Linked DNA regions of Homo sapiens: region 2 is linked to region 1. The links come from fine-mapping of genetic effects on gene expression. A gene starts in region 1. The other region holds a variant in brackets. All regions are shown on one strand. Distances are from middle to middle. Region 1 holds the start of SMAP2 (small ArfGAP2). Region 2 overlaps SMAP2 (small ArfGAP2).

Evidence for each region.
Region 2: its variant is fine-mapped to the expression of SMAP2 in fibroblasts (GTEx, PIP 0.94).

Annotation. Positions count from the first base shown.
Region 1 is chr1:40,370,678-40,376,058 of GRCh38, reverse strand. SMAP2 (small ArfGAP2) reads right to left here and starts at 2,332. Exons shown (of 10, transcript NM_022733.3): 1 at 1,836-2,332. The coding sequence starts at 1,938. RefSeq lists an enhancer at 1,575-2,074 and silencers at 2,060-2,199, 2,270-2,589.
Region 2 is chr1:40,393,774-40,399,154 of GRCh38, reverse strand. The region is part of intron 1 of SMAP2 (small ArfGAP2); the gene reads right to left. Among named protein-coding and RNA genes, the nearest start is that of SMAP2, 23 kb to the right of the region's middle. The variant C/T (reference allele first, on the strand shown) is at 1,996.

The DNA of each region.
Region 1 (5,381 bases):
GAATCACTTGAACCCGGGAGGCAGAGGTTGCAGTGAGCCGAGATTGCACCATTGCACTCCAGCCTGGGCGACAAAGCGAAACTGTCTCAAAAAATAAAAATAAAAAATAAAATAAATAAAAAGCAATGGAAATTTGGAGGAAGAAGTAGTGAATCAGCCTCTCTCTTCCATGTGCTGTATTTTATTGGAATATGAGTAAGTATAAGGGTAATATGAGAAATGGGGGGGGGGGTTCTAGTCACCAAAATGGCATCTGACTCTCCAAATGCAGCAATGCTCACTCCAGTGGGTTGCTTCACTGTGACTCAAGATCTGTCAAATGAGGACATAAGGGAATTTGAATAAAGCCAAGATACACTCCTAAAATAAACCAAATCTTCCAATAGACCTAACAGAAGATGTAACAAGAATCAAGAAGCTAACCTACTCAACATAAATTGATTCTAAAATACTTTTTAAAATGAATTATTGCTAATGCAAAAATTCAGGAAAGAAGTCTAGGAATTTGTTTTCCTAATGGCACATTCCATTTATCTGTTGGTAGAGGTCACTAAAATACATTACTAGGTGTCTATGTATCCCTCCCCTGTTCTCCTTTTATAACCTTATTCTTCAAAAATAAAAGGTAATTAAGTGAAAGCATCAATTAAATATGTCCTTCCTTTCTCAAAATAGATAAATACGAATATAACTGAATCTTTGTTTTATAGTATATGCCCACTACGCTGTACGGCAAACAACCATGGCAAATCCACTGCATTATGAACAAAAGTAAATTGTCGCCCCCAAAATATAACTATCCATTTCGACCCAACCAAAGGGAAAATAATTTTCCCAATCCTCCAATTATATGCCAAAAGAATTAGAAAATACAGGAAAAAAAGATTCATAGAAGCTTGTATAAATGTCAAGTGCCAACATTTCACTAATAACCAAGATTTCCTATTGTACTGACTTTTAATTGTATCAAATCATGAATCTTCTAGGGCACAGAAAACAAAGACTAAATGGTTCTGCCAATTTACAATGATCATATTTCACCTTTAGAAGTGTAATCGCCATGGAAGCAATGAATTCATCGAATTCATCTTTCTCTCTCCACTGATTAAACGGATCCTGCACTACAGGCATAATCGGCTAGTTTCTGCCACCACTCATACATAGGCCTCCAACGCACTCTACAAGCCAGGGCTACACTGCCTAGAAATCCGCACTGTGTCACTGCATAAGGCAGTTTCCCACTGCACACATCCAGAAGAATAAAGTCACCTAAGCACTCTTGTCAGATCTTAGCAAGGCTGCAAAATGACAGGAGTTGCTAACCAAATAGCAGGAAGCAAAAATCACCACCTTTAAAAATCATTTAAGCAGTTTTCCTTTCCGCCATCTCACTTCCCTCCTCCTCCTCCTCGTCATTCTCTCTCTCTCTCTCTCACACACACACACACACACACACACACACGCACGCACGCACGCACGCAATGCAGTTCATCCCCAGCTTTGCAAGTGACATGCTGGGAGCTCTCTCTGGACAGCCGGCCCAGAACTCATTCAGAGCCCTCAAATACAGACATTCTCACCTGAACACGCCAGGCAACTTCCACCCGCACCATCACCTCCACCCTCCCCGACACACACAGACTCGCCCTCGCAAGCTCTACCCATACCAATCCCCCAGCTGCAGAAAGCCCAGTAGGCTCACTGCAAGCGCAGCACGCGTTACCACTTATAAGCCGAGTTGGGCGGCCTAAGCTTCAGAAACCGCCTCTTCACGCAGCCCACCCCCACCACCCCGGCGCGGCTGGACCCCTGGCCCGCCAGGTGGGATGCGCTACCTTTAGACTGGCAATCTGCACAAAACTTGTTATCCTCCTCCAGCAGCAGGTTGGCCAGGACAGCCTGGTACCGATCCACGTCCTTCACCGACTTGCCTGTCATGGCCAGGGTGCCGGCGGGGGCAGAGGGCGACGCGCCCTCCTCGCCCCCAGAGACCCCTGCCTCAGTCCGGGGTTGAGGACTCCCGGTCCCCCGCCCAGGGGCACCTCCTGAGCGGGGAGAGCCCTCTCCTCCGGCCCCGCCGGACGCCCCTTCCCGGGTCGGGGGCGTCCGTCCCCCACTCCGCAGCCCCTCGGCGCGGCGCCCCTTGGCGGGCTTAGGGACAGGCCCGCCTCCAAGAGAGGCTGCGGGGCCAGAGACCCTCAGCCCAGGCAAAGGCGGACCACGAGCCTCCTGGGTGCCGGACGCAGATGACCCTCTGGCCGGCCTGTCTGCTGGCCTTGCGTCCCGCGCCTCGGTTTCCCTGGCAGCTGCCGTCAGCTCCGCTACCACCTCCACCGCCTACTTCCGGCAGCTCTTCCTCCCCACCTCCACCCTGCCCAGCTCGCGCATGCGCCCCGCCCCCACCGCGCCGCACTGGGCTCTTCCTTCAGCTCCGCCTCTCGGGAACCAATCCGTGGAGAAGCGGGGGGCGGGCCTTGGGTGGGGGCGGAGGGAAGGGGTGGGCACGCCCCCTGCGTGTCCTTGGAAGAGAATGAATGGAGCCTGGTAGAAAGGGAGTGGAGGGAATGGAAGAAAGTGAAGGAAGACAACAACTAACATTTACTGAGCTCTTACTATGCGCTAGGCACTGTGTTAAGCGCTTTGCATGAACTATCCCAACATAATCCTCACAACGACCCTATGATCATCCTTATGTAACCTGAGGGTTGTTGATACCCCAAAGTCCTCCAGCTTGTTTTTTCCAACAGCCAAATATAAGAGTCCAAGCCCCTAACCCAGGATATAGGAACGTCACCCCCTCCCCACATTTTCAGAGGACTCTGGTCACCTCTCACTTGGAATACCTGCTCCCACTAATACTCATTAGCTCTCCTCTGTGACTCCTGCCTTTTTGGATATTGTTTGGCCTGGTGCCCAGACAGTTTGTTTCTTCTTCCATTTCTTAAATTCTCACAAAACAGCGAGTTTTTTGTGGCAGACTTTTACTGAACGTTATTTGGGAAGGGTGGGGGACAGTGATTAAAGCATAGCACACAACAGGCAACTCCTTAAAAATGATTATTAAACATCATCATCCAAAGCCACCGTTGCTACAGATAATTTCTCATTGGCTGTCCTTTTCCTTAGGGATCCACCTGCCATCTGGCTTGTGTTTTCATTCACTCATTCATTCATTCATTCACTGAGCACGATGTTACTGAGAAATTTCTAAGTATCAGGCACTGTACTAGGGGAGAGGGAAACAGCATGATCCGATTTGTGGTTTTAAAAGGTCACTCTGGCTGCCATGGAAATAATTAATCAGGGAAGATAGTAAGCAGATGCTAAGAGTTATCTAAACTCTGGTGAAACCCTCTCCTCCATTTCTTTACTTTCTCCCAAGACCAGGATCCCCTCAAAGCTTTCATCTCATCAGAGGAAAACTAAACATTTCTATTACTTTATTAATCACAACAATTAAATTTTCTGGCTAAGCCTCTTCCCTTCTAGCCATGCCTAGGGGACTTGACTTTTAAAAACACACAAGTTCATTGGGGTGTTTTTCCTCAGAAAACCCATCCAAGTAGGTATTACCATAACCATTTTTCAGTTGAAATAGACAGTCAAGATTAACTAGTTACTGGGTGTGGTGGCACATACCTGTAGTCCTAGCTACTCAGGATGCCAGAGCCAGAGCATCACTTGAGCCCAGGAGTTGGAATCCAGCCTGGGCAACACAGTAAGAACCACCCCTCCAACCCCCAATGTACCCCGTTACCCTGTCTCAAACAACAACAACAACAACAAAACCCAGTTAATTGCGGTGAGTGGTGATTGTACCTTAGTTCAAGCCCTCCCCATCTTCATCTCCTCACTCTGCAAATAGCCTTCCTGCCTTAGTCTAAATCTGGTTAAATTAATCCTTCACCGTGCTCTCTAGAGGGAGCTTTTAAATGCCAATTCTGATGGACTCACACTTCCTGCTTAAAAAATCCTTTAGTGGCTCTCCATTGCCTATGGCAGTGTTTCTCAAATTGTTCCCACCTAGTGAGAGATCTCATGGCTTTGTGGTTAAGCACACAGACTCTGGGGCAAGAATGCTTAAGTTTAAATCTTCAGCTTTTACCACCTATTATCTGTGTGACTTTGAGCAGGTTACTTAGCCTCTTGGTGCCTCAGTTATTTCATCTATAGAATGGGAATGATGATAACATTAATAGTACCTATTTCACAAGATTATTATGAGGCTTAGCTGAGATAATGCCTGTAATATAATTAGAACAGCCCTTGGTAGATAGTGAATGATAGACAATTAGCGCTCTTCACTAAATATTTCTGGCGTTTTGCCTTCTGAGCACATGGTAGGATTTTATTTCCTGGCCTTCAAGTGATTGGGAAAGACCAATGAGTTTGAGCAGAAAGGATGGATTACTTTGTCTCTGAAGCATTTATTTGTTGCTTTGAGCCTCTTGTGCTTCTCTTTCCCTCTGGCATGGCAACTATTGATGCTGAAGATGTTGGTTGCTCTATTAGCCTGGATTTCTGTGTAGCTGATAAACAAGAGCTCTCTGCCAGCCCATAGAGGATAACTTAGCATAAGCAAGAAATAAGCATTGTGTTGCCATTGAGTTTTGTTTGTTTACCACTGTATAAGCTAGCCTATCCTAGCAGATACATCAAGTATTAGCTCTTTTTATTATCATTACTAATAGCAGAGTAAAGTGAGTGCATAGCCCAGGGTCTGAGGATATAAACAAAGCAAACTGCTCCTCCCAAGTACACATTTTTTTTTTTGAAGTCTTGAATTTTGCTTTGACTAGTCTTGCAAAAATGTTCACTCTGTTCCATCATGCACATGTTATCTTATCATAAAACTGTTTCCACATTAGTTATAAAATTTTTTTTTTTGAGACCGAGTCTCGCTCTGTCGCCAGGCTGGAGTGCAGTGGTGCGATCTCGGCTCACTGCAACCTCCGCCTCCCAGGTTCAAGCAATTCTCCTGCCTCAGCCTCCCAAGTAGCTAGGACTACAGGCACGTGCCACCACTCCTGGCTAATTTTTTGTATTTTAATAGAGGCAGGGTTTCACCCTGTTAGCCAGGATGGTCTCAATCTCCTGACCTCGTGACCCGCCCACCTCAGCCTCCCAAAGTACTAGGATTACTGGCATGAGCCACCGCGCCTGGCCAGTTATAGAATTTTCTTTTCTTTTTTTTTTTTTTTTATTATACTTTAAGTTTTAGGGTACATGTGCACATTGTGCAGGTTAGTTACATATGTATACATGTGCCATGCTGGTGCGCTGCACCCACTAACTCGTCATCTAGCATTAGGTATATCTCCCAATGCTATCCCTCCCCCCTCCCCCTACCCCACCACAGTCCCCAGAGTGTGATATTCCCC
Region 2 (5,381 bases), 23 kb before region 1:
AAAAATAAAAATAAATCAATGAAATAAAAAAGAGACAGGGTCTCACTATGTTGCTCAGGCTGGTCTTGAACTCCTGGCCTCAAGTGATTTTCCTACTTTGGCCTCCCAAAGCACTGAGATTACAGGAGTGAGCCACTGTGCCTGGCCACCCTTTACTTTTTCTAAATCATACCATATTTTGTTACTATCTAATTATTTGATTGTTTAAGATGTCTTTCCCGCTTAACTATGTGTGCCACAAGAGCTGTCACCAGACCTGTAACATTCACTATCATATACTCACGGCATAGCATGGTTCCTTGAACATAGCAGGGAAGCAACATTTGCTTAAAGATTAATTAAAACTAAGTATTCTAGGTGCAGTGGCACATGTCTGTAGTCCCAGCTATTCAGGAGGCTGAGGTTGGAGGATCACTTGAGCCCAGGAGTTTGAGGCCAGCCTGGGCAACATATTGACACCCTATCTCAAAAAAACAAAAGAACTAAGTAAATCCTTTGACCCCACTTGTAAGAATTCATCAGGGAAAAAACAGGTCAAGTACACAAAGAAATACGTTAAGAATGTTCATTATTACATCTTTATGAAAATTAGAAACATTAATAGGTTACATTAAGGAATTATGGTATCACCATTTAACGGGGAAAAATTTTGGAGCCTCTATTTCATATAAAAGTATCTCCATGATATAGTAATTTTAAAAATCCAGTATTAAAAGAGTACACATGAAACAATTCCATTTTTTTTAAAATATGAATAAATGAGCTCGGTGTGGTGATATGCCTCTGTAGTCCTAGCTACTTGGGAGGCTGAGCGGGAGTACTGCTTGAGCCCAAGGATTCAAAGGCTGCAATGAGCTATGATTGCACCATGGCACTTCATCCTAGGGAACAGAGTGAGACCTTGTCAAAAAATAAATAAATAAATAAATGTACGCGTATGCACAGAAAAAAAATCTAGAAGACTATATGTAAATTATTACTATATCGGGATAATGGGATAATGAAACATCTATTTTCTTCTCTATATATCCTCTCTGAATTGTTTGCAATGAGCTTTCTATTAATTTTGCAATGGGAAAAACCAGTACAGATATCGTAAAAACAAAACAACGTAAGCATCCAGGGCTCCTTACTGGCTGCAGGGTAAGTTGAAACTCCTTAACATAATATATAAAGTCTGTTGAGAGCCTTGTACTTTACACATGCTGAGGAAGTCATAATTGTGAAATATGCAGCACACTCAAATCTCTTTGACTACACCATTCTTTCTACCTGGAATGGCTTTCTCCCTCATTCCCTGCTTGACAAACTTAAAAATCCAGTTCATCTGTGATGCCCTCCAATGGAATAAACCCTAACTTTCTCTATTGCTAATAGCCCAGGGTATGCTTTGTTCTTCTAATACTTAATATCTTGTTCGAGTTGCTTACAGGTCTCTCTTGTCCTAAATAGACTATGAGCTCTGGAAGGCAATGACCATGTTCCTTCATCATTTATCACAAACACTTGACACAATGCTAGCAAACAGAAGATGGTACACAATAAATGTGTGTTAAATGAATTCGTCAATAAGCAACATAAATGTATATATTTTTCCTGTTTTGCAAAATGAAGGGAGAAGTTTTCAAATGCCTTAAAGGATAGCTGTAACACAGAAAACGGATTAGGTTACTTTGGAAAGGCTTCAAAAGCAGAACTGGCACCAAGGAGTAGAAGTTGATTTTAGCACACTCTAGAGAAAAATTTTCTAACAATTAAGGTTGTGTAAAAACCAATGCAGCATATCCAGAAATTGTAAAATCTCAGTTAGTGCAGTGTTCAAACAGAGGTTTGGTAATCAGTTCTCAGGGATGGTAGAGAAATGATCCCCATGTGGTGAATTGGGTGAACAATGAGCCCTACAGTTCTTTCTACTACTACAGTCCTACTACTACAGTAGATGATTTGCAGTAATTTTTAGGTCCCTTCCTGCTTACCGTTCAATGGTTCTGAAAA[C/T]GTAAAATGAAACAAACAATCTATGAAGATGTTAGGTCTTGAGGAACCTAAAACACGGAATCAAATTTGGTTCATGGAGCCTATACCAGGCACTGAAAACTGGTTAAATGCAACATACATATAAGGAAAAACCTAAATCAACAAACTCAGATTTTATAAGAGATTAATTCTACGTGACATAACTTGTCATTAACTCTGACCCAAAATTTGGAAGTCAAAGTAAAAAAAGCAGCAGTATTTGTTTTAAGAACAAATCTAGTGCCAGTTACCTCAGTTCCACTCATTATATCCCTCCATTCTCTGATTCACTGAAAAGGAAGAATACACAGAAACACCAGTGGGATCTTGGAAAAATTGTGTAGGGCTGCTGAGAGGTATGTTTACCTCTATGTTTTCATCCACACAAAAGAGAGTTCATCAAGTTCCTTATTCCAAAATAACAATAAACAGTAACTTTGAACTTCTGTAAGTACAAACATTTTAAGGAACCATGAGACCAAAATAAAGGCTTATGCAATCAACCTCTGCTTTCAGAACACTTGCAAGACAAGTCCCTTTCCATCTGGGCCATCTTGCAAGAATGTTGTTTCCGTTTGTCAAAAAGAAACACTGTCCACATTTGTACTGTTGAAAAAAGAGCATAAGTTAAGCTTAAAAATGTCTGAGACAAAGAAAATTAAAACATGTCTGAGACTGGTTAGAGAATAAAGGTAAATCCTACACCAAGAAATTTAAAATTAGAAAATCAGAGGTGGAAAGGACTTTAGAAATCCTCTTAGGTCCAGCCTCTCACTGAATGCACCCTCCTTCTAGGGGTGATCACCTGGCTTGTCCAATGCTGAGTCAGTTACGTACCATTTCAAAAGGTAGTTGGTTTGTCTATTAGACGGCACCCACTATTAGAGAGGCCTTCCTTATACGGAGTCCCATTAATCTCTCTTCCTACCATTTTGATATCCTGGTGCTGCTTTTTACTCCCCCCATACTTATATAATATATCAAAGTATGAAAGATAAAGATGGAGGTTTGGAGATTCTAGCAGAAGAAAGCAGCCACTTATATACTCAACCAAAATACAAGCCCGCTGAACCAATTTAATCCAGGAGCTCAATGATAGAACAGACATAGCAATTAGACAGACTGCTGTGATTACCAATGGAGATGAAGCAAAGCAACATTATCTTCCTACCAGGTAACCGGAAAAAGGAGGTTAAGGGAGGTAGAACACTGCTAAGTACTCACTAATGAAATGATTAGTCAATCTATGTCTAAAACTAATTCAGCAGTTAACTTAAAATGGCTTTTCTCAAAAAACATTAAAGCCTGTAACACAAAGAAATCAACAGGAAAGCAGACTGAGGTCTACTAGGAGAAAGGAAGGAGGCATTCTTCATCTTTCTCATGTTATTTAACTGGCCCTTCTTATCTACACAGCTAAAGATACGAATTATCTAAATTACAGCACTAATTTCCTGTGTGACTTTAGACAAGTCAATATACCTTAACCAGATTATCTCAAACATATCTCTTCTAAAAGATAGTAACTGTATCTCAAAAATTCATTAAACTACTCTGGAAAGGTAAATTTGGCTCCACATTAATCTTACTGCCCTGTTTTATTATTATTATTATTATTATTTTGTAGAGGTGAGGTCTTGCTATGTTGCCCAGGCTGGTTTTGAACTCTTGGGCTCAAGTGATCTTCCCACCTTGGCCTCCCAAAGTACTGGGATTACAGGCATGAGCCACTGGGCCTGGCCATTGGTTTATTATTAACAGGTAGGGACTTACTGTGACTCTTCCTTGTTGTCTCTCCCAGCAGTGGAAGGTAACTAGTGTATACTTAGGTGATGTTTCTGGGAATAAAGAACTATCAATCAGTCATCCTGTATCATTATTATCAATTCAATTCCCCAGGTGACTTCAGGAGGGAAAGAATGAGATCCTAGTTTGGACTTTGTTGGCTTTGAAAAGGACATTCTGCCAACATATGTCCTGATAATGTCATCACCCCATTCAAAGCTATGTCACTGGACCCCCCACCATCAACTGAACTCCAAACTTCTAAGTATGGCTTAAATTCTCCTGTGATCTGGGTCTTTAATTCTCATTACTCCTCTTCTCACTTCTATACACCAAGAGTGACATCACTTCCTCTTAAAACTGTGTATATAGATGCCACTTGTCATGTTCCTGACTCACAGAGGAATCTGAGAGAGTGAATACTACCCACAGAGACGCACAGGCCTTTTTCTGATTTGGGGATGGGATACAGACAGAGGGACTCTTGGGTGTGGTGAGTCTCTGTTCCAACTAGAGGACCTCCTGACTGCCACAAAAATCAATGTACACATATATCAAAACACCACATTGTATACTGTAAACATATACAATTTTCATTGTCAATTACATCGTCGTAAAAAAGAATTCTTTCCAGTTGGTCCTGGGAAAGCTATGCAGTGCTCTTGGTGGTAGTGTCTGAGAGCTGAGACAAGGCCCAAGTCTTTGGGGGTTTCCCTAGGAGATTCTGGTATGTGCTGCTATGATTGTTTTTATAGTAAAGAGCCAACATATTTTAAGGAGGGAGAAAGAGCTAGCCAAGAGATTTTCTGCCAGTATTGAAGAACCTTGTAAAGTCAGTGAGATGAGACTGATTGCATAAGCCAATGAAGCCCCCAGTTGCTTCCGTTAGAGGCCAGTCCCTTGATGCTACAAACACTGAATAAGATAAAACTTAAAAATCTGAACAGGTCCACCTCTTCCTTTGAGGACAATAGACTTCTTCAAAAAAGAGCAAAAGTGGATCCCCGTAAGTTTTCATTTCATGGAGTGAACTGATGATGGCTAACCTTCAAGACATGGTTACTTGAAGATTCATCAAAATCCTTCCAATCCCTAGTGATTGGCGCCCCAAACACCTAAACACACCGCATAAGAGGAGAACAACTTCTGAGGGAAATGGTAGATGGTGTGATTGAAACACTTATCTTAAGAAAGCTTAGAACTGTCCTCCCAAGAAACCATAGGATGGAAGCAAAGAGTTCTGGAACTAAAGGAAAAAATTCTTGAAAACAAGCATATGAATGAACTCAGTTGCAAATGATAAAGAGAGCCAGCTAAAAATCTATGACTGAAACTCCTGGAGAAGATAGATTTCCTTGCTCTCTTTAGAGCCAATTACATGGATAATGGCAACTTGGAATTGGAAAAAAGGGTGAATCAGAAAATGGAGACCATTTAGATTATTGTCAGAAGTTAATTTGAAGAAACTCATTGATTCTGTTCACGCAAATACTCCTTAAAAAGGTTAGAAGTGGCCGGGCGCGGTGCCTCACGCCTTAATCCCAGCACTTTGGGATGCTAAGGCCGGTGGATCACCTGAGGTC